3 linked regions of the Homo sapiens genome follow. The protein of the gene in region 1 interacts with the protein of each later gene in a pairwise test. Each region holds a gene or a part of one and is shown on either strand. Other genes may lie near its edges.

Region 1 (7,036 bases):
TCAAGCGATTCTTCTGCCTCTGCCTCCCGAGTAGCTGTGATTAAGGCACCTGCCACCACACCTGGCTAATTTTTTGTATTTTTAGTAGAGACAGGGTTTCACCATGTTGGCCAGGCTGGTCTTGAACTATTGACCTCAGGTGATCTGCCCGCCTCAGCCTCACAAAGTGCTGGGATTACAAATGTGAGCCACCGCGCCTGGCCTTTTTTTTTTTTTTTTGAGACAGAGTTTCACTCTTGTTGCCCAGGCTGGAGTGCAATGGCATGATCTCGGCTCAGTGCAACCTCCACCTCCTGGGTACAAGCGATTTTCCTGCCTCAACCTCCTGAGTGGCTGGGATTACAGGTGCCTGCCACCATGCCCAGCTAATTTTTTGTATTTTTAGTAGAAACGGGTTTTCCCCATATTGGCCAGGCTGGTCTCAAACTCTTGGCCTCAGGTGATCCGCCCGCTTTGGCGGCCTTGGCTTCCCAAAGTGCTGGGATTACAGGCGTGAGCCACCGCGCCCAGCCAACACCTGGCTAATTTTGTAGAGACAGGGTCTCACTATGTTACCCAGGCTGGTCTTGAACTCCTGGGCTCAAGCGATCCTTCTGCTTCAACCTCCCAAATTGTTAAAGTAATTACAGGCATGAGGCACTGCACCTGGCCCAGAGATTACTTTTTATGGCTAAAAAATAACAATATATTATTACACTCAGCATTACTATTAATATATTATTACAGGCCGGGCGTGGTGGCTCACGCCTGTAATCCCAGCACTTTGGGAGGCCAAGGCGGGCAGATCACAAGGTCAAGAGATCGAGACCATCCTGGCCAACATGGTGAAACCCCATCTCTATTAAAAGTATAAAAATTAGCTGGGCGTGGTGGTGGGCGCCTGTAGTCCCAGCTACTCGGGAGGCTGAGGCAGGATAATCACTTGAACCCAGGAGGCAGAGGTTGCAGTGAGCTGAGATCACGCCACTGCACTCCAGCCTGGGTGACAAAGCGAGACGCTGTCTCAAAAAAAAATAAAAAAAATAAAAAATATGTATATATATTATTACATATTATTACATCTGTAGAATACTTTGTTTACCAAGCACTCATATCCATCATCAAATCTGAGCTTCATGTAAGCCATGAGGTAAATTCACAGGAGGTAATAGATGTCATTACCCTCATTTAAAAATCAGGAAAAGATGCTCAAAAAGACTAAATGATTTGTCCATTTTTGCAAAGGTATTAAATGACAAAGCAGGGATAAAATTCCAAGACCCCAGTATCCTTTCCACTAAACTACATTGACTACTGGCACCTAAGTTCACAAATCCCAAAGGCTCTCCAGTTTACATAAAAGACTATGTATATATATTTTTTCTTTCTTTTTTGAGACACACTCTTGCTGTGTCACCCAGGCTGGAGTATACTGGTGCGATCTTGGCTCACTGCGACCTCCGCCTTCCGGGTTCAAGCAATTCTCGTGCCTCAGCCTCCTGAGTAGCTGGGACTACAGGTGTGCACCATTACACCTGGCTAATTTTTGGTATTTTTAGTAGAGATGGCGTTTCTCCATGTTGCCCAGGCTGGTCTCAAACTCCTGAGCTCAGGCAATCCACCCAACTTGGCCTCCCAAAATGTTGGGATTACAGGCATGAGCCACTGCACCCGGCCGAAAGACATTATATTTCTGATAGAACATTCAAGGTACGTAATAGGAGCTGTGAGGAGGGAAAAACAAATTCCAATTCTATTTATATTTCATTAATCACTCTAGGGATAGTGAGTAGGGAGAAAAACAACTTTACCTCTGATAGTCTTCCAAAGCCATTCCCTCCTTGAAAGTGGGATAGAAAGGAACAGAGTAAGGACACTTCTTATGTAGATGAGCAAGAATGAGGTCCCCCACTCTGGGGTGGAGCTCCCAGATCCCGGATGCCACAACTGCAATGGGGAATGCTGCTTCATGGTGAGAGGCCACTTCCTCCTCGCCTTGTTTCTGAGAACATAGAGGTGGGTACAATTTTAACTTAATACCAGAAAAAGGCTGAAATCTTGTACACCAGCCTCTGCTTCCCATACCTCTAGCAACAAGGTTTCTCACCACAAATTTCTCTGCCAGTTTGTATTGAACAAAGTCCAGCCCCTGTGGGTTAAGTGTGACAGACACAGAGCGCCCACCAGATTGAACAGGTTTTCCAGAGAGCAGGCTGTGGATCTTGTCAAAGATCTCCTTCAGTTTTGAGCCTGAGCATGATAGAGAGAAATTAAAAGATATAACCACAGATCAATCTCTTTTTCTTTTCCTTTTTTTTTTTTTTTTTTTTTTTTTGAGACAGTATCACTCTACTGCCCAGGCTGGAGTGCAGTGGCACAATCTTGGCTCACTGCAACCTCCGTCTCCCGAGTTGAAGCAATTCTCTGCCTCAGCCTCCTGAGTAGCTGGGATCACAGACGCCCGCCACCACACTGGGCTAAGTTTTGTATTTTTTTTTTTTTGTAGAGATGGGATTTCACCATGTTGGCCAGGCTGGTCTCTAACTGCTGACCTCAAGTGATCCGCCCGCTTTGGCCTCCCAAAGTGCTGGGATTACAGGCGTGAGCCACCATGCCCAGCCTGTTTCATCATTGTAATTACAAAGCATCTACAAAAACCCAGCTGTGCTGCCCTACAGAAATGAAGGGATAAACAGTATCCCTTACTGTACACATAAAATGAAGGGATAAACAGTATAGAAAGAGGTGTTACATTTTGTTACAGACCCCATGGACTGTGGTTGGTATCTCTAGAGGAGTTAGTCACATCTCTAGGAAAAACCTTCTAAAGGATCTAACCAGCTCATGATGATATGCCCCCTTCTCAGGACTTGCCTTCTTCCGTCCTCAGAGACACAGAAGTGGATTCGTAACAGCTATATTTGTACCAAAGATTTTGTGTGCTCCACCCCCACACTAGCTACAGTTAGATTAGAGGCAGTCAAGCTGAGCCAGTCAGTCAACTAAGAGTCACTTCCTTGAGGTAGCTGGCCCTGTGTCACATACACTCACAAGCAGTGGGGGCTGCGTACCTGCCATGAAGACCAAAGAACGGCAATCTATAAAATAAGAATGGAGATGTAGAGAGGACAGATGAGATGAGAGAGGAAAAAAGAACTAAAGTTTCTAGCTCCTGAGACCTCACCTCATTCCTGCCACTGGGTTCTGTAGGATATTTCTTTATCTTTCCAATAAATGCTTTTTTTTTTTTGCTTAAGCAGATCTGGGCCAGCACTTTGGGAGGCCAAGGCAGGCAGATCACTTGTGGTCAGGAGTTCGAGACCAGCCTGACCAACATGGTGATACCTCGTCTCTACTAAAAATGCAAAAATTAGCCAGGTGTGGTGGCGGGTGCCTGTAATCCCAGCTACTCGGGGAGGCTGAGGCAGGAGAATCGTTTGAACCCAGGAAGCGCAGGTTACAGTGAGCCGAGATTGTGCCACTGCACTCCAGCCTGGGTGACAAAGCAAGACTCCATCTCCTCCCTAAAAAAAAAAAAAAAAAAAAAAAAAAAGCAAAGCAGATCTGAATTACTTTCCATTACCTGAAGTCCTGAAGTCAATGTTTTAATTAATACAGCATCTCCAGTTGAGAAATACCCTGTCAAGTTCCTAATCACTTCAAGAAATGTCACAAAAGTTTCAGAAATATCCTGTCATTCAGTTCTCTTATCAAAAAAAAAAAAAGCCAACCATGTGGACCCCACTGGCTGAATGCCCCATCTAGCATCTAGCCTCTCTCCATACCTCTCTAGGTAGGAGGAAAGTTAGTTAGCTTCCAACCCTAGACTGACGTGGCCTCCCCATGCCACAGCAACATCATGTCCTTATTTAAGATTTCTTCTAATTCTAACCACTCATGGACATCCATCTTTTTTTTTTTTTTTTTTTTTGAGCTGGAGTCTCACTCTGTCACCCAGGCTAGAGTGCAGTGGTTCGATGTCACCTCACTGCAACCTCTGCCTTCCGGGTTCAAGTGATTCTTCCACCTCAGCCTCCCAAGTAGCTGGGACTACAGGTGTGTGCCACCACGCCCGGCTAATTTTTGTATTTTTAGTAGACACGGGGTTTCACCATGTTGGCCAGCCTGATCTCAAACTCCTGACCTCAAGTGATCTGTCTGCCTCATCCTCTCAAAATGCTGGGATTACAGGTGTGAGCCACCACACCCGGCGACATCCACTTTTTTTTTTTTTTTTGAGATGAAGTCTCACTCTGTCACCCAGGCTGGAGTACAATGGCACGATCTTGGCTTACTGCAACCTCCGCTCCTGGGTTGAAGTGATTTTCCTGCCTCAGCCTCCCGAGTAGCTGGGATTACAGGCGCCTGCCACCACATCTGGCTAATATTTGTATTTTAGTAGAGATGGGGTTTCACCACATTGGCCAGGCTGGTCTTGAACTCCTGACCTCCTATGATTCACCCACCTCAGCCGCCTAAAGTGCTGGGACTACAAGTGTGAGCCACTGGGCCCAGCTGACATCCACCTTTTTTTTTTTTTTTTTTTTTGAGATGGAGTTTTGCTCTTTTTGCCCAGACTGGAGTGCAATGGCGTGATCTCAGATCACCGCAACTTCTGCCTCCTGGGTTCAAGAGATCCTCCTGCCTCAGCCTCCTGAGTAGCTGGGATTACAGGCATGCACCACCATGCCCAGCTAATTTTGTATTTTTAGTAGACACAGGGTTTCTCCATATTGGTCAGGCTGATCTCGAACTCCTGACCTTGTGATCCACCCGCCTCAGCCTCCCAAAGTGCTGGGATTACAGGATTACAGGCGTGAGCCACTGTGCCCGGCCCACCTTTTTTTTTTTTTTGAGACGGAATCTCGCTCTTTCACCCAGGACGGAGTGCAGTGGTGCTATCTCGGCGCACTGCAAGCTCCGCCTCCCGGGTTCATGCCATTTTCCTGCCTCAGCCTCCGGAGTAGCTAGGACTACAGGTGCCTGCCACCACGCCCAGCTAATTTTTTGTATTTTTAGTAGAGACAGGGTTTCACCGTGTTAGCCAGGATGGTCTCGATCTCCTGACCTGGTGACCCGCCAGGCTCGGCCTCCCAAAGTGCTGGGATTACAGGCGTGAACCACCGCGCCCGGCCCACCTTTTTAAAAAAGAGAAGAATTAGGTGATCCTTCCCTCCTATTCATTAAACGCTTACTGAGCACTAACTAGAGCATGTTCTGTGTCTGGCTGGACTACAAGATCTTAAAGGACTTAAAGTCTTGATGGAGACAAAGGGAGAGTCAGGAAATGTGTAGAAAAATTAAAAAAGGCAAAGATATAGACTAATTCGATGTGGTGAGTGAAAGAGAGGCAGCAGTCATAAAGATGACTCCCAGGTTTCCAGCTAAGATTACTGAGTAGATAATGGTGCTACTGATTACTCAAGAGAAAACAGCAGACAAAGAGGGCTAAGGAAGATGATGGGTTTGGATTTGAACACATTAAACTTGAGGCAGCTAAGAGACATATAGGCAGAGATGTCCCTCAGGTAGCTGAAGCTGGAGAATCTGAAGCTCAGAAGAAAGGAATAAACCAGAGGTAGGTTTGGGAGTCATCAGCATTCAGGTAATGTTTGAAGCCCTGTAAGTAGAGAGAACGAAAAGAACTGCAGGATAAGAGTAGATCCCAGCCGGGCACAGTGGCTCATGCCTGTAATCCCAGCACTTTGGGAGGCCGAGGTGGGCAGATCATGAGGTCAGAAGATCGAGACCATCCTGGCTAACACGTTGAAATCCTGGCTAACACGTTGAAACCTGGTCTCTACTAAAAATACAAAAAATTAGCCGGGCGTGGTGGCAGGCGCCTGCAGTCCCAGCTACTCGGGAGGCTGAGGCAGGAGAATGGCGTGAACCCGGGAGGTGGAGCTTGCACTGAGCCGATATAGTGCCACTGCACTCCAGCCTGGGCGAAAGAGCGAGACTCTCAAAAAAAAAAAAGAGTAGATCCCTAGGAATCACCTACAATTAGAGTGGGGTAGAAGACTAAGAAACCCACAAAGGGGAGAGAGAGAGAGGGAGAGAGGGAGAGAGAGAGAGGAAAGGGTAGTGAGGGAGGGAGGAGAAGAACCTGGAAAGTAATGGCACCATGGAGGCCAAAGGAGTAGAGTTGCACAGAGAAAGCAGCAACAGTGCCGAACAGAAACCTCAGGAAGATCAGCAAACACTTAGAAGACATAGGATCAAGGGAGACTCATGTTAGGATGTGAGGGGCTCACATATATTTACAGGCTGAGAGAGAGGAGCCTATAAAAAGGAGTAATCACAGAAAACAGGAAAGGCAATAAACGATGAGGCAGTCTGACAGGAGACAGGAAGGAAAGGGAACAAGGGCAGAGGTGGAAGGGTAAGCCCAGCAGCAAGGACGCCTCATCCAGTGACACAGGAGACTAAGAGGTAAATGTCACTGTGCAGTGGTGGAGGGGCTCTGAGGAGCTCACACTGGATGTCTCCATTTTCCTGATGAAGGAGGTACTGACCCTGTCTGCAGTCAACAGAGGGGAACTGGGAACGGCCATCGAGGTGTGGAGTGGCTGTCCAGTCAACCTCTCTTGCTTTGCTGTTGCTATCAAAGGACACAGCACTTTAAATTCCAAAAAGTGATATGTTATTTATTTATTTATACCTTGCCCTGTTCCAGAAAGAATTTCAGGCAGCAAAGTCATATGTAAGTTTTGCTGGACTGCCTATCAAGGGCAGGAACTGAAATTTTCCTATGCTTTCCAGGCAATGAGAAGTGAGTCGGGGAACGGAACCCACGATGCGTCAGAGGAGTGTTCCAGTTGCACACACACTCCCCAGCCACCTGGCAGCTCAGTCTATAATCTGGAGGCTTCCACATCTACAGCTCCATACAAATGAACCTCTGGTTCTAAAGAAGTTTCTTCCTTGTCTGGTTCTCACTTTCTAAACCTCAGTCTCTGGAGAGAAAAGGAGTCCTGGAGGATGAACAAGGCGAGCTTGGAGTAATTTGGAAAAGCTAATGTTGTAGGACAGAAGCAAAGCCTGCAAGTCACAGCCT
Region 2 (6,248 bases), on another chromosome or scaffold:
AGTGACAGAGCGAGACCCTGTGAGTGAGAGAGAGAGAGGGAAAGAGGGAGAGGGAGAGAGAGAGAGGAGGGAGGAGGGAGGGAGGTGGGGGAGGGGAGGGGAGAAGAAAACACCAGCCAGGGAACATGTGCAAAAGTGTGGAGGTGTGAAAAATGTATGTTATCTTCAGGGACTAGCAGTTAATCCAGTTTTACTGCAGCAATAGGATTCATTAGTTAGGAGTAAAGGGAAACTATAAGAGGTGAGGCTTAAATAGTGGGCTAAGATAGATTTCTGGAGGGCCTGAGTAACATAATAAGGACTTTAAAACTTACCCTTAAATAGTAGGGAGGCTTAGAAAGTTGTTTTGGTTTTAGGAGATTTTTTTGAGAGGGTCCCACTCTGCTGCCCAGGCTGGAGTGCAGTGTACACAATCTCAGCTCACTGCAACCTCGACCTTTCAGGCTCAAGCAGTCCTCCTGCCTCAGCCTTCCAAGTAGCCGGGACTACAGGTATGCCCCACCACACCCAGCTAATTTTTGTATTTTTTGTAAAGACAGGGTCTCACTGTGTTGCCCAGGCCTGTCTCGAACTCCTGGGCTCAAGCGATCCACCGACCTCAGCCTCCCAAAGTGAGAAAGTTTTTAGAGGAAAGTGACAATATGATTAGATTTATATTTTTCTGTTTTACTTTATTTTTGTAGAGATAGGGGTCTCACTGTGTTGCCCAAGCTGGTCTTGAACTCCAGGCTTCAAGTGATGCTCCCACCTGGGCCTTCCCAAAGTGCTGGGATTACAGGCATGAGGTACCATGCCTGGCCTAGATTTGTATTTTTAAAAGAGAATTTTACTAGCAATTAGAAAGATTAGAGCAGGCAAATACCAGAGGAAGTGAGAGCAGTTTGGAGGTTGTTTGCTCACTTCTAGTGAACAGTTTTTCTAAAATTTAAGAAATACATGTTTTGGATTCTGTGTGAATATTCTAATTGAATATATAATTTTATAGTTCCCATAATTTGATAGACTTTTGTTGTTACATTTTCCCTGTGTTTCAGTAAACCAGAATGTAAGGCCATAAAGAATTATCTTTTGTAAATAGATTTATCTAGAAACCAGTCTATAATTTCCTTACGATTGTCTAGTTTCTTCAGCAGCTTACTGTATTTTGGTTTTGTAGGTTGGCCTGGCAGTGGTCAATGGACAGCTCATGGCAGTAGGAGGTTTTGATGGCACAACATACTTGAAGACCATAGAAGTTTTTGATCCTGATGCCAATACATGGAGGTAACTTTTAAGCTGTGTAGCAAATCACCTCACTACTGATTTGGAAATCATGGGCTTGAAATAGCCTATGACCATCAGAACTGGGATGGTCAGTACATTGGAGTACTTTGAAGAGGGCTGAAGTTACACATATTTATGGCTCATTTTGACTTGATTGCTCTAAAGTGGCTGATATATTACAAAATTCTCCTTTTCAGTAACTGTCCAGTTTTATAATTAGAGATGGGTAAAATAGGGAAAAAAAATCTTCCTAGTCCCATCATGTTCAGCTGAGGAAACAAAAGCACCGAGAAATAAAATGACCTGCCTAAGTGAGTTAGTGACAGAGTTAGAATTAGAACCTAGGTCTTTGGCTCCAAATCTGTCCATGCCATTTTTTGGTGTTCTTGTGGGAAACCTATGCCTAGGAGAAACAAATTGCAATTACTTTTGAAAAATTAATATTTGAAAAATAATATTTCATTTTTAAAGCCATTTTAACTTTTAGGGAGGAGGCTACATCTTATTTAAGAGAGCTTAACTTAAACTTCATTTCTAGGTTTAATTTTACTTTGCTTTTAAATCCTCAATTGTCTAATAAAGCTTTCTTAAGTAGTTAAGTAGTTTTTATAATTTCACATAAATTAGGTGACTTTTGCATTTATTTTAAATATTCAAGAACCTTTACAAACTTAGCAAAATTCTCTTAAACCTTTAAACTTAAAATAATTAAGTCTAAATCTTTACTCAATCATATTTTATACTTGAATCACAAGAGTAATCTTATAGATGCCCTAAAAAGCCAAATTCTCTTAAACACTACAGGAACTTAAAATGCAAAACACATAGTTTATTCTCAAACTTTAAAAATAACAATACTATGGGTTTGATGTATGGCATATCTGTACTTAATTCTAAATACTAGTCTTCTAAGAAAACAGTTTTGCCTTCCAAGCAATTTGGGGTTTCCTTCTCAATAAAATGGGCTTACTTGCCTAAGCAAGTTTAGGGTTACCATCTCAGTGGTTAAGGTTGCACATCAACCAGAAATATCAGGCTGGACATGTGAGCTGAGGCAGCAGACATTCTGGGAAATTTTTCTTATGACCATGAAGGATAAGCTGAGCTCTGTTTTATTGTTACTATTCTAAAAGAGGCAGTCTTGTAGTCCTTTCTTACTGTATTCTAATAGTCTATCTCTAGGAAAGCCACAACTCTCACAGAGATTTAAGTGACATGCTTTGGATCCTACATATGTCTCACAGCTCCATATGACTCAGTGGTCACAAAACTAAAGTCAGGCTAATAACAGCGTGTACGTTTTGCTCCTACATCACATTTTTACAGTCCTGTTCATTAAGTAAAGATTTATTGATGGCCAGGCACGGTGGCTCATGCCTGTAATCTCAGCACTTTGGGAGACCAAGGTGGGCGGATCACCTGAGGTCAGGAGTTCGAGACCAGCCTGGCCAACATGATGAAACCTCGTCTCTACTAAAAATACAAAAACTAGCCAGGCATTGGGGTGGGCACCTGTAATCCCAGCTACTTGGGAGGCTGAGGCAGGAGAATCACTTGAACCTGGGGTCAGAGGTTGCAGTGAGCAGAGATTGGGCCATTGCACTGCAGCCTGGGTGACAGAGCAAGACTCCGTCTCAAAAAAAAAAAAAGATTTACTAAGTGCTCCGAGCCCTGGGGATACAAAACTGAACAACAACAACAAAAATTCCTGCCAAGCGCACGCCTGTAATCCCAGCTACTAGGGAGGCTGAGGCATGAGAATCTCTTGAACCCAGAAGGTGGAGGTTGCAGTGAGCCGAGATCACACCACTGCACTCTAGCCTGAGTGGAAGAGCAAGACTCCGTCTCAAAACAAAACAAAACAACAAAAAAGTTCCTTGCCCTGCTGGAGCTAACCAATTGTATTGAGGGAGACAAACAGTACCATACCAGTAGATGGAAGTGCTGTGGCAAATATCAAAGCAGGGGAGGGGGCTAGGGAGTACAGGGAGGGGAATCTGTTTTTAAAGGTGTTCAGGGAAGGCCTCATTGGAAAGGTAGCATTTTAGCAAAACCTAAATACGGTAAAGGATAGGTAATGGCAGCTTTGGGCCTCTCACTGGCAGGATATTTTCTTCCATATACAGCTTTCTATTTTTACTAGGAATTTTGATTAAGCATAATTTCTGAAGACAGCCAAATTTACTGTCACTTAATCACTATAATCTTATCTGAGGACTTGTTTCTTAGTAACTGTCACTAAATAGAATTAGTAATAGATGACAAAGTAATAGTCATGAAATTATTGAGGATCATCTGTTGAAAGATTAATAACTAAATATTTGCAGTTACATATCCAAGACTTAAAAACCAACTCTACCTCATAGCTGATAAGGGTCTAGTATTCTTCTCCATGGAAAGTCCTTAATTTTGAAGATGATCTTGTCACAAACTAGATGCTGACTTTACTCAAATCTGGTTTTGTTCTATAAAGGACTTGAAGAGGCTTACAGAGTACATATAAGACAAAGGGATAAAAATAAATAATTGAAGAATTTTAGGCAAAGGGAAAACATAGGTGGGACAATAATATAGCCAGGGGCAAAATTTTGAAAATGTAGAATATATAATTCTGTGTAACCGTTAGAAGTCAGTGAGGTATACAGTTGTAAAGTTCTGATGCCAAACGTGAATATGATGCTCTCTTATTCTTCACACAGCCTCCTATGAGTGAGAGCATGTCAGTCAATCTCTGAAACAGTCCTGCTACTCAACAGTGCTCAATTGCAGCTTCTAATCTTTAGAATGAAGACAATATTAGTGTGAAGCTGAAAATATTAGTTGTAATATAAAACATAGAAACGTGTTAATAACATCTTAGTCGTAGTTAATAACATCTTAGTTGTAACATATTTTCCAGTTAGAAAATATGATTATGTTTCTTTCTTTGCAGGTTATATGGCGGGATGAATTACCGTCGGCTAGGGGGTGGCGTAGGAGTTATTAAAATGACACATTGTGAATCCCATATTTGGTGAACACAGAGAAGACAGTCTTGTATATATTCCTCTGTATTCTGGGGAGCTTTGACCTTGGAGCTTTGTACAGCTTGAGAAAACATTAGAACAAATTTTATTATTTGCCGGTGCCTCAACAAATGGAAATACAATCCAATGAAAGTACTTCACCTGCAAGATGCACAATAATTTTCAACTCTGTGCAGAAGAATATTTATTTTTGGTTTTAATTTATCATGGTTTTTTGTTGTTTTCGTTTTGAACTTATCCTTCCTCCCACAAAAAAAGAAAAGAAGAAAAAATTCCAAGCAGCAAAACTTACTTTGTTTGTAAGGTATTCATTTAGGTTTGAAAATACTATTTAATAAGGGCAGAAGGGCTATATATGATTTGGCTATTATTTCTAGACACTCCATCCACATGATTCCACTAACAAGGATTACCAGGAATAAAGGTAGGTATGCAAAATGTATTAGCTACCCATTATTCTCGCACTAACCACCAGAAGACTTGAAAATCTTAAAAAAAAAAAACAAAAAAACAAGAAAAGGCAACATCTCATTTTAAATAGTACAATTCAGAAGGGATACTAAATCAATAAAAACCAGGACTCAGACACTACAGTTTTCATCAGTGTAATTTTATGTCTTGTTTCTTTCTATATGAACTTGTTTATTTAGTCTTTTTTTCATAATATTCTCATAGAGTTTCTGCTAGATCTAGAGCTCTGCTCAGTGCCTCTTATAAAAACAATATATAAGTCTCATATGCTGTCTTGAGAATCCAAGAGAATCACATGCAGCTCTGCAACAGTTTTTGCTCAAAAATGTTACTGACTAAAGCAACTGTCCTTCCTGTTTCCTTATTGCTACCAAGGACCAGCAGGGAGAAATGTCTTCTCCCAGCAGTGAATTCTGTTATGCAATTTATTCTTGATGCTCAGGCCTGGTTAAGCTGAGGCTTACCTTTAATAACAGCCTCCAAGGGAATGAATTATTCAGTTAATGTAATAGCACACATTAAAGAGTGTAAAATCAATTGAGGCATTTTATTAATATCTTGGTTCTTTTATACAAACAATGTATCATTATCTTCATTCTATAAGGTCATTGTTACTACTTCTCTCAAATTGCACTTTCTGGTAAAAAGTTAAAAATTTTTAAGGAAAAAATAATTTCAATGGTTAAAGTTTTTTTTCCTCATTGTATTCATAGACAAATTTTTTTCAATATATTTTGCAAGAAAAATCTTTGAATAAGACTAACTGCATTTAAAAGGAATAACCTCCTTCTCCCTTTCCCCAACTACAAAAATGTTTGGCAACTTTGTGTTTACATTTAAAGATCATTTGCACCTTTTTCAAGGAAAAAAAGTATTGAGTAAACAATTGTTTACATATATCATTTATGCTTTTTTCTAGCATGTATAACTTTTTTAAATAAAGGTAGTATTTACCATTAAAAAAATTTTAGCTAATGCTTTTTATCCTTGTACTTTTGTTATTTAATTTGGAATTTCTGTTTCTATATAATTTATTTTATCTGTATGTAAAGTTACAAGTGCTTTCAACTTGAATAAAAGGATTGCCAGCTAGAATTAATAGGAATTTTCATTATATATTTTTATATGTTATATTACCTAACCTATAAACTTATTTTCTAGGTAGGACTTAGACTCATACAATTTTGAGCTGGAAGGACTCTTTAACAATCATCTAGTCCAAACCCACTTATTACACTGATCCAAGTCTGAAAACCACAAAGTCTGCCTAAGAATAAATAGTCAATTAATGATAGAACCAACATTAGAAATCAGCTTCCTCAATTCCCAGTCCATTCCTCTTTCTATGCCACACTGCCACTATAGGTTTACCTGAAACTAAATATAATAAAAGACCTTAAGTATTTTAATTAAGTCTGGTATTAACATGTAAAAAGTATAAAAACTTTTATGAGATCCTCACTGTAGTACATCATTAACAATCAGTCT
Region 3 (7,036 bases), on another chromosome or scaffold:
CACAATGGGTAAAGTTTATTGCATGTACATTTACCTCAGTAAAGCTGTGGGTTTTTTTAAGAGCTAAATTCATGGTGGTGAGAATGTAATAGGCATTCACTAAGTATTTTTGACTAAATTAATAATTAAATTAGTCATGAATGGAATTATTTCATTCTTCAGTGATGGGTCATATCAGGAAATCCAGATGCATAAGGGGTCGAATTTTACCTCCTTGATTTTGAAACTTTACGTCAACTTCTAAAAGTCCAACTTTAATAGTAAATCCCAGTTCCTGGCACACACTTTGAAGGCCCACTGTCCCTCAGTTTACCAGTTTTTCATATTTACCCTGAGAATGAAGTCAGTGACTGGACTTAGTCCTGTGTCTGCAACTCATATATTTCTCTTGAGCATGGCCTTGTGTTCTCATTTATGTTATCAGACATGCAATTTAGTCATTAAAATAGACATTTTGATATAGTGGCAGAGGATGTGTTTAAGATTTGAGAAATTTACTAAAAAATGAAATCCCTTTTGTCGTTTCCAGAAACATCAGACTCTGGGCCTCTATTGACAAACCGTATCCACTTGTAAGTTGAATGTAACAATAGGCGGTGCACGTGAGCCAGCATGGACTTTTCTCATTGGCTGTTAGCATGAGGAGCTTGTCTGGCATCCTTGTATTTGATCCTGATGTCTTACTGTCTTTTCTCCCAGGTATGGCAGCAGCCAAACTTCTGCATGACTCTGGACTGAATGTGGTTGTTCTGGAAGCCCGGGACCGTGTGGGAGGCAGGACTTACACTCTTAGGGTAAGGCATTAAGAATCCGGAGGACAAATGTGGGACTGAAGCTGAGTTTGGGGTTTCATTTTTGTCTTTTTCCCCAAAAGTCTTCAATTTCATTTGACTCTAAGAGGGTGAAAATAACTCTGAAACATTCTTCACAGCCTCTCTCCCAGTTTGCCTTCCTTTCAATTCTTCTGTTCCTTTTTGTCTTTTCATCTCATGATATTTGGCCTCATAGAGTTAGGATTGAGTAAGAGGGAAATGGACAGATATGTGTGTGCCTCTGTGTGTGTGTGTGTGTGTGTGTGTGTGTGTGTGTGTGTGTGTGTGTGTGTGAGACAGAGAGAGAAATAGGAAGAAAAATAACATAATTATATGTACTTTCCACTCCTAACTTCGATGCTTCCTTCACACCAACACAATCATTCTAATCATACAAACTAAACTTTTTTGGAGAGACTTTCTCCCATTTTTAAATTTATTTTTTAAATTTTATTTTAACAAATCATAATTGTATTACATTTATGGAGTATAATGTGATGTTTTCACCATATGTATACAATGTGGAGTGATTAAATCAAGCTAAATTAACATATTCAGCACCTCACTTTCTTGACATTTTTTGTGGTGATACATTTGAAATTTACTCTGTTATTTTGAAATGCACAATACATTATTATTACTACAGTTACTGTGCAATGGATTTCAAAACTTATTCTTCCTGTCTAGCTAAAATTTTGTACCCTTCCTGTCTAGCTAAAATTTTGTACTCCTCATTCCCTCAGTTCTCACCCCCCAGCCCCTGATAATATTCATTTTGCTCTCTACTTCTATGAATTCAACGTGTTTTAGATTCCACTTATAAGTCTTTCTGTGCCTGGCTTATTTCACTTAGCATAATGTCCTCCAAATTCATCTATGTTGTCCCAAATGACATTTCTTTATTTTTAAAGGCTGAATAGTATTTCATTGTGTGTATATACCAAGTCTTCCTCATCCATTTATCCACTGATGGACACTTAGGGTGATTTCATATCATGGCTACTGTAGATAATGCTGCAATGAACATGGGTGTGCAGATATCTCTTTGACATATTGACTTCAATTCTTTTGGATATATTCCCAAAAATGGGATTGCTGAATTATGCGGTAGTTCTATTTTTAGTTTTCCATTTTTAGTTTTCTGAGGAACCTCCATACTGTTTTCTGTAATAGCTGTACTGATTTACATTCCCACCAATAGTGTACAAGGGTTCCCTTTTCTCTTCATCCTTGACAACACTGATTATTTTTCCTCTTTTTGATAAAAGCCATTTTAACAGGTGTGAGGTGATATCTCATTTTGGTTTTAATTTGGATTTCCCTAATGATTAGTGGTGCTGAACTTTTTCCATGAACCTGTTGGCCATTTGCATGTCTTCTTTTGAGAAGTGTCTGTTCAGTTCCTTTGCCCATTCTTTAAAAATCTGGTTATTTGTCTCTTGCTATTGAGTTGTTTGAGTTTCTTATATAATTTGGATATTAACCTCTTATCAGATGTACGGCTTGCAAATATGTAAAGAAAACTATCATTTTATTAATTGTTCTTTTGCTGTGCAGGAGCTTTGTAGTTTGATGCAATTCCATTTGTCTGTTTTTGCTTTTTTTCCTGATCTTTCAGGGCCATATCCAAAAAATCATTTCCCTGACTAGTGTCATGGAGCTTTCCCCTTGTTTTCTTCAAGTAATTTTGCCGTTTCAGGTCTCGTGTTTAAGTCTTTAATCTATTTAGAGTTGATTATTTGTATATGGTGTTTGCATATGGTATAAGATAAGGGACTACTTTTATTCTTCTGCATGTGGATAGTCCGTTTTTCCTGCACCATTTATTGAATAGACTGTCCTTTCCCCATTGTGTGTTCTTGGAATCTTCATCAAAACTCAATTGATTGTAAATGTGTGGGTTTATTTTTGAGCTTTCTATCCTGTTCTATTGGTTGGTGAGTCTGTTTTTATGTCAGTACCATACTGTTTTGATTAAAATTGCTTCATAATATATTTTGAAGTTGGGTAGTATAACGCCTTCACCTTTGTTCTTTTTGTACAAGATTGTTTTGGCTAGTTGTAGTCTTCTGTAGTTCCATATGAATTTAAGGATTGTTTTTTCTGTTTCTGTGAAAAATAACATTGGCATTTTGATGGGGATTGCACTGAATCTATGGATCACTTTGGGTAGTATGGACATTTTACATTATTAATTCTCCCAATCCATGAACATGGATGTGTTTTTATTTATTCACATAAACTAAACTTTTACCTGCCTAATTTTCCTTCTTGTTTTTGCTTCAGCTTTTATTTTTTTAAAAGAATTATTTACCAATTTATAAATACCCTTATTTTAATTGCTGGTTAATTGTTTCAATTCTGACACTGTTGCCTAAAATTAATGATTTTCTATTTAAACACAGAGTCAAGCAAAGCAAGTTTCTCTGCAAGGAAATGCCCTACTTCCATACATTCAAGATCTGAATAATAGATATAGAAGCTACAGAGTATTTTCATTTCCAGAGAGATAAGACATATAAAATTCTGACTCACAGCTCTTCTTTTGGAAGGATTCATCAATGATATATATCTGACATTTTGTACTCATTCTTTTTTTTAAATTATACTTTAAGTTCTGGGATACATGTGCAGGGGTGGGATCTGCTGAGCTAGATCACTTGGCTCCCTGGCTTCAGCCCCCTTTCCAGGGGAGTGAACGGTTCTGTCCCACTGGTGTTCCAGGCACCACTTGGATATGAAAAAAAAAAAAAAAAAACTCCTGCAGCTAGCTCGGTGTCTGCCCAAATGGCCGCCCAGTTTTGTGCTTGAAACCCAGGGCCCTGGTGGCATAGGACCGAGGGAATCTCCTGGTCTGCGGGTTGTGAAGACCATGAGAAAAGCAAAGTATCTGGGCCAGAATGCACTGTTCCTCATGGCACAGTCCCTCACAGCTTCCCTTGGCTAGGGAAGGGAGTTCCCTAACCCCTTGCACTTCCCAGGTAAGGCGACACCCCACCCTGCTTAGGCTCATCCTCTATGGGCTGCACTCACAGTCTAACCAGTCCCAGTGAGATGAACTGGGTACCTCAGTTGGAAACGCAGAAATCACCTGCCTTCTGTGTTGATCTCACTGGGAACTGCAGACTGGAGCTGTTCCTATTCGACCATCTTGCCAGCCCTCTGTACTCATTCTTTACTTTGAGTCATCTCCTTTATAATTGAATTTGTCCTCAGCAAATATCTACTGAGTACCTACTATGAATCAGGCACAGTAATCCCCCCAAAATGGCCTTGCTCCACAGACTTTACAGTCTCTCAGGGGGACAATGACTGTTGTAATTGCCTAATTATAGCTTATCAAGGAAAATGCTACAGTGAGGGTGGGTGACAGCTTGGAGTGGTGCCATAGGAGGCATAAGAGGGTACCTTACCAGTCTTGAGAGCCAGAGACTCAGAGAAGCCTGAAAGCCTTATCTGTTATTGACTGTGACATACACCGCCTGACCTAGTTATTTGTGATTTCACACAAGCCTTCAAACTTGATCTAACCCTTGTTGTCTACTGGCCATTGTTTTTGCCATTATGTGTTCCTCAAATATCTCTTTTTACCTTTGTCGTATGGCAAAATCTTCACATACTTCCAGGATCTCATCCCTTCCTACTCCAATCAAAAGCTACTTGCCTTTCTTCTGTGTTAATACCACTTACCTGTTCCACACAAGGACAATTATTATATGTTGCTTTACAAGGTTTTGCCTGTGTACATCTTATCTCTCCCAGTTCTTGAAATCTTCATATTCCTTGAAAAATACAGCATATAAGAGTGCCTTTTACGTAAAGAAGCTGGTTTAGTACAATTAGGTGCTGAATTTTTAAAAACATCCTTCTTTCATTTATTTGAGAAAATTTATTGGACAACTGCTATAGGAGTTTGGAATACTTTAGTGAGTAAAACAAAGATGCCTTGTGAAAATTGCATTTTTGAAGGGTAAGTGAGTGGAAAGCTAGACAAAAAATACGCAAATAAACAAAAACAGAAGAGAAGGACCATTTCTAGTGTTTCTAACTGGTAGGAACCTGGTTTTTCTTAGACATACTCAGAAATAGGAAACTTTTCTACTAATTTTTTGTTCAAAGTTCGCCCCTCAGTCATTGGAAATGAAACCAATTCAAAACTACGTAAATATACTATTAAACATAAAAGCAATTTCAAAGTCCAAATTATGACCAAATATTCCCTAGTGCTATTTTCAAATGTCTGGATTAACAAATCACATAAGAAGTGATCGTTTTCTTTCTTGCTTTTTCTCTAGCATTAGGCTCCTCAACATTCACCTGAAGTACTGAGTAAAGAGATTCGTCAATAATTCACAGCTCACAAATTCAAAGCACTAAAAACCAAGCCATGTTATGGTATATTGTAAATGATGAGGTTTAGAAGCTCTTGCCTATTCAGAGTTCAATCAATTTTGCTTTAAAGATTGATTTAATAACTAAGTCATGTGAATGAAGTAGAGTTGATAACAAAATCTAGTTTTTCGTGGATATACCCTTAAGCTGTATCTATAACTTGTGAAATGTCGATTTGCTTATTTCAGGACTGTCTTTTGTTATTTTATACATTTTTTACAAATTTTTTTTAATTTTTTCCTATGGGAAAACAGAACCAAAAGGTTAAATATGTGGACCTTGGAGGATCCTATGTTGGACCAACCCAGAATCGTATCTTGAGATTAGCCAAGGAGCTAGGATTGGAGACCTACAAAGTGAATGAGGTTGAGCGTCTGATCCACCATGTAAAGGTAAGATCAGGCCAGACTTTGAAGGATTTGAAAACTTCTCTATGATGTTTCCTTACACAAATTCCAGATCATTCTCTCAGAGAATCTTCTATATCTCTGGATGATGCAAATGTATTTTATAATGGTATTTCAGCCACTCTGAGATTCATTCACTGTTATCAAAGGTGAATTAGGTGGGAATTCTACCTATTTAGGAAGGTTATTGATGAAGTGGTATCTTCCATGTGGTAAAATGTTTAACAAAACCCATAAAGAAAAAACATTTGTGCTTTATTTATTAAATATCTATTTAAATACCGGGAAGTCTTTTATGTTATATAAAAACCTGTGCAAAGTTTTTAAAATGCTGCCCTAGACTGCACATTGTAAAGAGTATTTGCAATATGCCTAATGGAATATTCTTACATTTTATCATTGTGGCCTATATATCAGCTAAAGTTATTCTTCTTTGGAGATTGACATCAAAGTGGTTCAAGTCCCAGATCCCGTCTTTTGCAAGGAAGCTTCATTGTTCTCCCCAAGATTTCTGTGAATTTACTGAGTTTCTCATTCCTGTGATCATTTGTGGCTCATAGTTCTGGCTTCCATGATACCTATGTTCATTCACATCTCACGGCCTGTGACTCTTTTCTTCTCTTTGCTTATGCCAACCTGGGTTCACACTCACCTCTTTGTCCTGATTTTTCTCAGACCGCCACAAGCATATGTGAAAAGCAAACGTCACTGAAGTTTGCTTGGGTTTGGTGGGCGGGGGAAGGCTCTTAAATTTGCAGAAATACAAACAGATTAGAACTGAATGTTGGACATTCATTCTAATAACCTCTTAGATCAAAGCATCCCCTGAGGATTTCTCACTGGTCACATTTCTCTGCAGATTCCAGTCTCCCACCATGCTGCTGGTCCTCAGACTCTCTTCACATCTCCCTGCTCCTCTGTTTTTCCAGCATCCTCATCTTGGTCCACAAAGTCACTCATGTTCTCTGACAATCAGACAGTCACCTAATCTGGGCCCCATCCAGGAGTCCCATGGAAGAACTGGCGGAGGTTTTCAATTTCAGTCTTTCCTCTCTCATCTTCACTTGCTCCTGTGGGTGGAAGTAAGCAGCACAGGAACTTATTCCTCACTGGTAGAAAACATCCCCTTAGAAGACAGAAGAAACTAGCAACGGTCAATTTTGATTTATATAACAATTTTGACATCCTCATATTATTTGTGAGTGATAATATCGAAACAAATAACTGACCATAAATCATGAAACATTTAATAAAATGGGAACTAAGCAGTTACTTAATTTGGTATAATGTGGGTAAAAGTTTTCCTTAATTTATAAATAAATGTTTTGGTTGACCTTCAAATTTTATTTTATATTGGCCGGGCACAGTGGCTCACGCCTGTAATCCCTGCACTTTGGGAGGCTGAGGCGGGCGGATCACCTGAGG

The links. The genes of interacting proteins can lie anywhere in the genome.
Region 2: the proteins of GLE1 (region 1) and KLHL20 interact in binary tests that used the Homo sapiens proteins (3 or more experiments, as listed by UniProt).
Region 3: the proteins of GLE1 (region 1) and MAOB interact in binary tests that used the Homo sapiens proteins (3 or more experiments, as listed by UniProt).

The regions. Positions count from the first base shown.
Region 1 is NC_000009.12:128,528,706-128,535,741, reverse strand, and holds part of GLE1 (mRNA export factor GLE1), read right to left. Parts: exon of another isoform or gene 6,742-7,036; intron 3,078-6,741; coding exon of another isoform or gene 3,051-3,077; intron 2,230-3,050; coding exon 2,087-2,229; intron 1,982-2,086; coding exon 1,791-1,981; intron 1-1,790. UniProt on the Homo sapiens protein: Required for the export of mRNAs containing poly(A) tails from the nucleus into the cytoplasm. May be involved in the terminal step of the mRNA transport through the nuclear pore complex (NPC).
Region 2 is NC_000001.11:173,780,968-173,787,215, forward strand, and holds the end of KLHL20 (kelch-like protein 20), read left to right. Parts: intron 1-1,156; coding exon 1,157-1,263; intron 1,264-4,195; coding exon 4,196-4,280; 3' UTR 4,281-5,725; downstream 5,726-6,248. UniProt on the Homo sapiens protein: Substrate-specific adapter of a BCR (BTB-CUL3-RBX1) E3 ubiquitin-protein ligase complex involved in interferon response and anterograde Golgi to endosome transport.
Region 3 is NC_000023.11:43,837,428-43,844,463, reverse strand, and holds part of MAOB (amine oxidase [flavin-containing] B), read left to right. Parts: intron 1-547; exon of another isoform or gene 548-572; intron 573-699; coding exon 700-794; intron 795-5,458; coding exon 5,459-5,596; intron 5,597-7,036.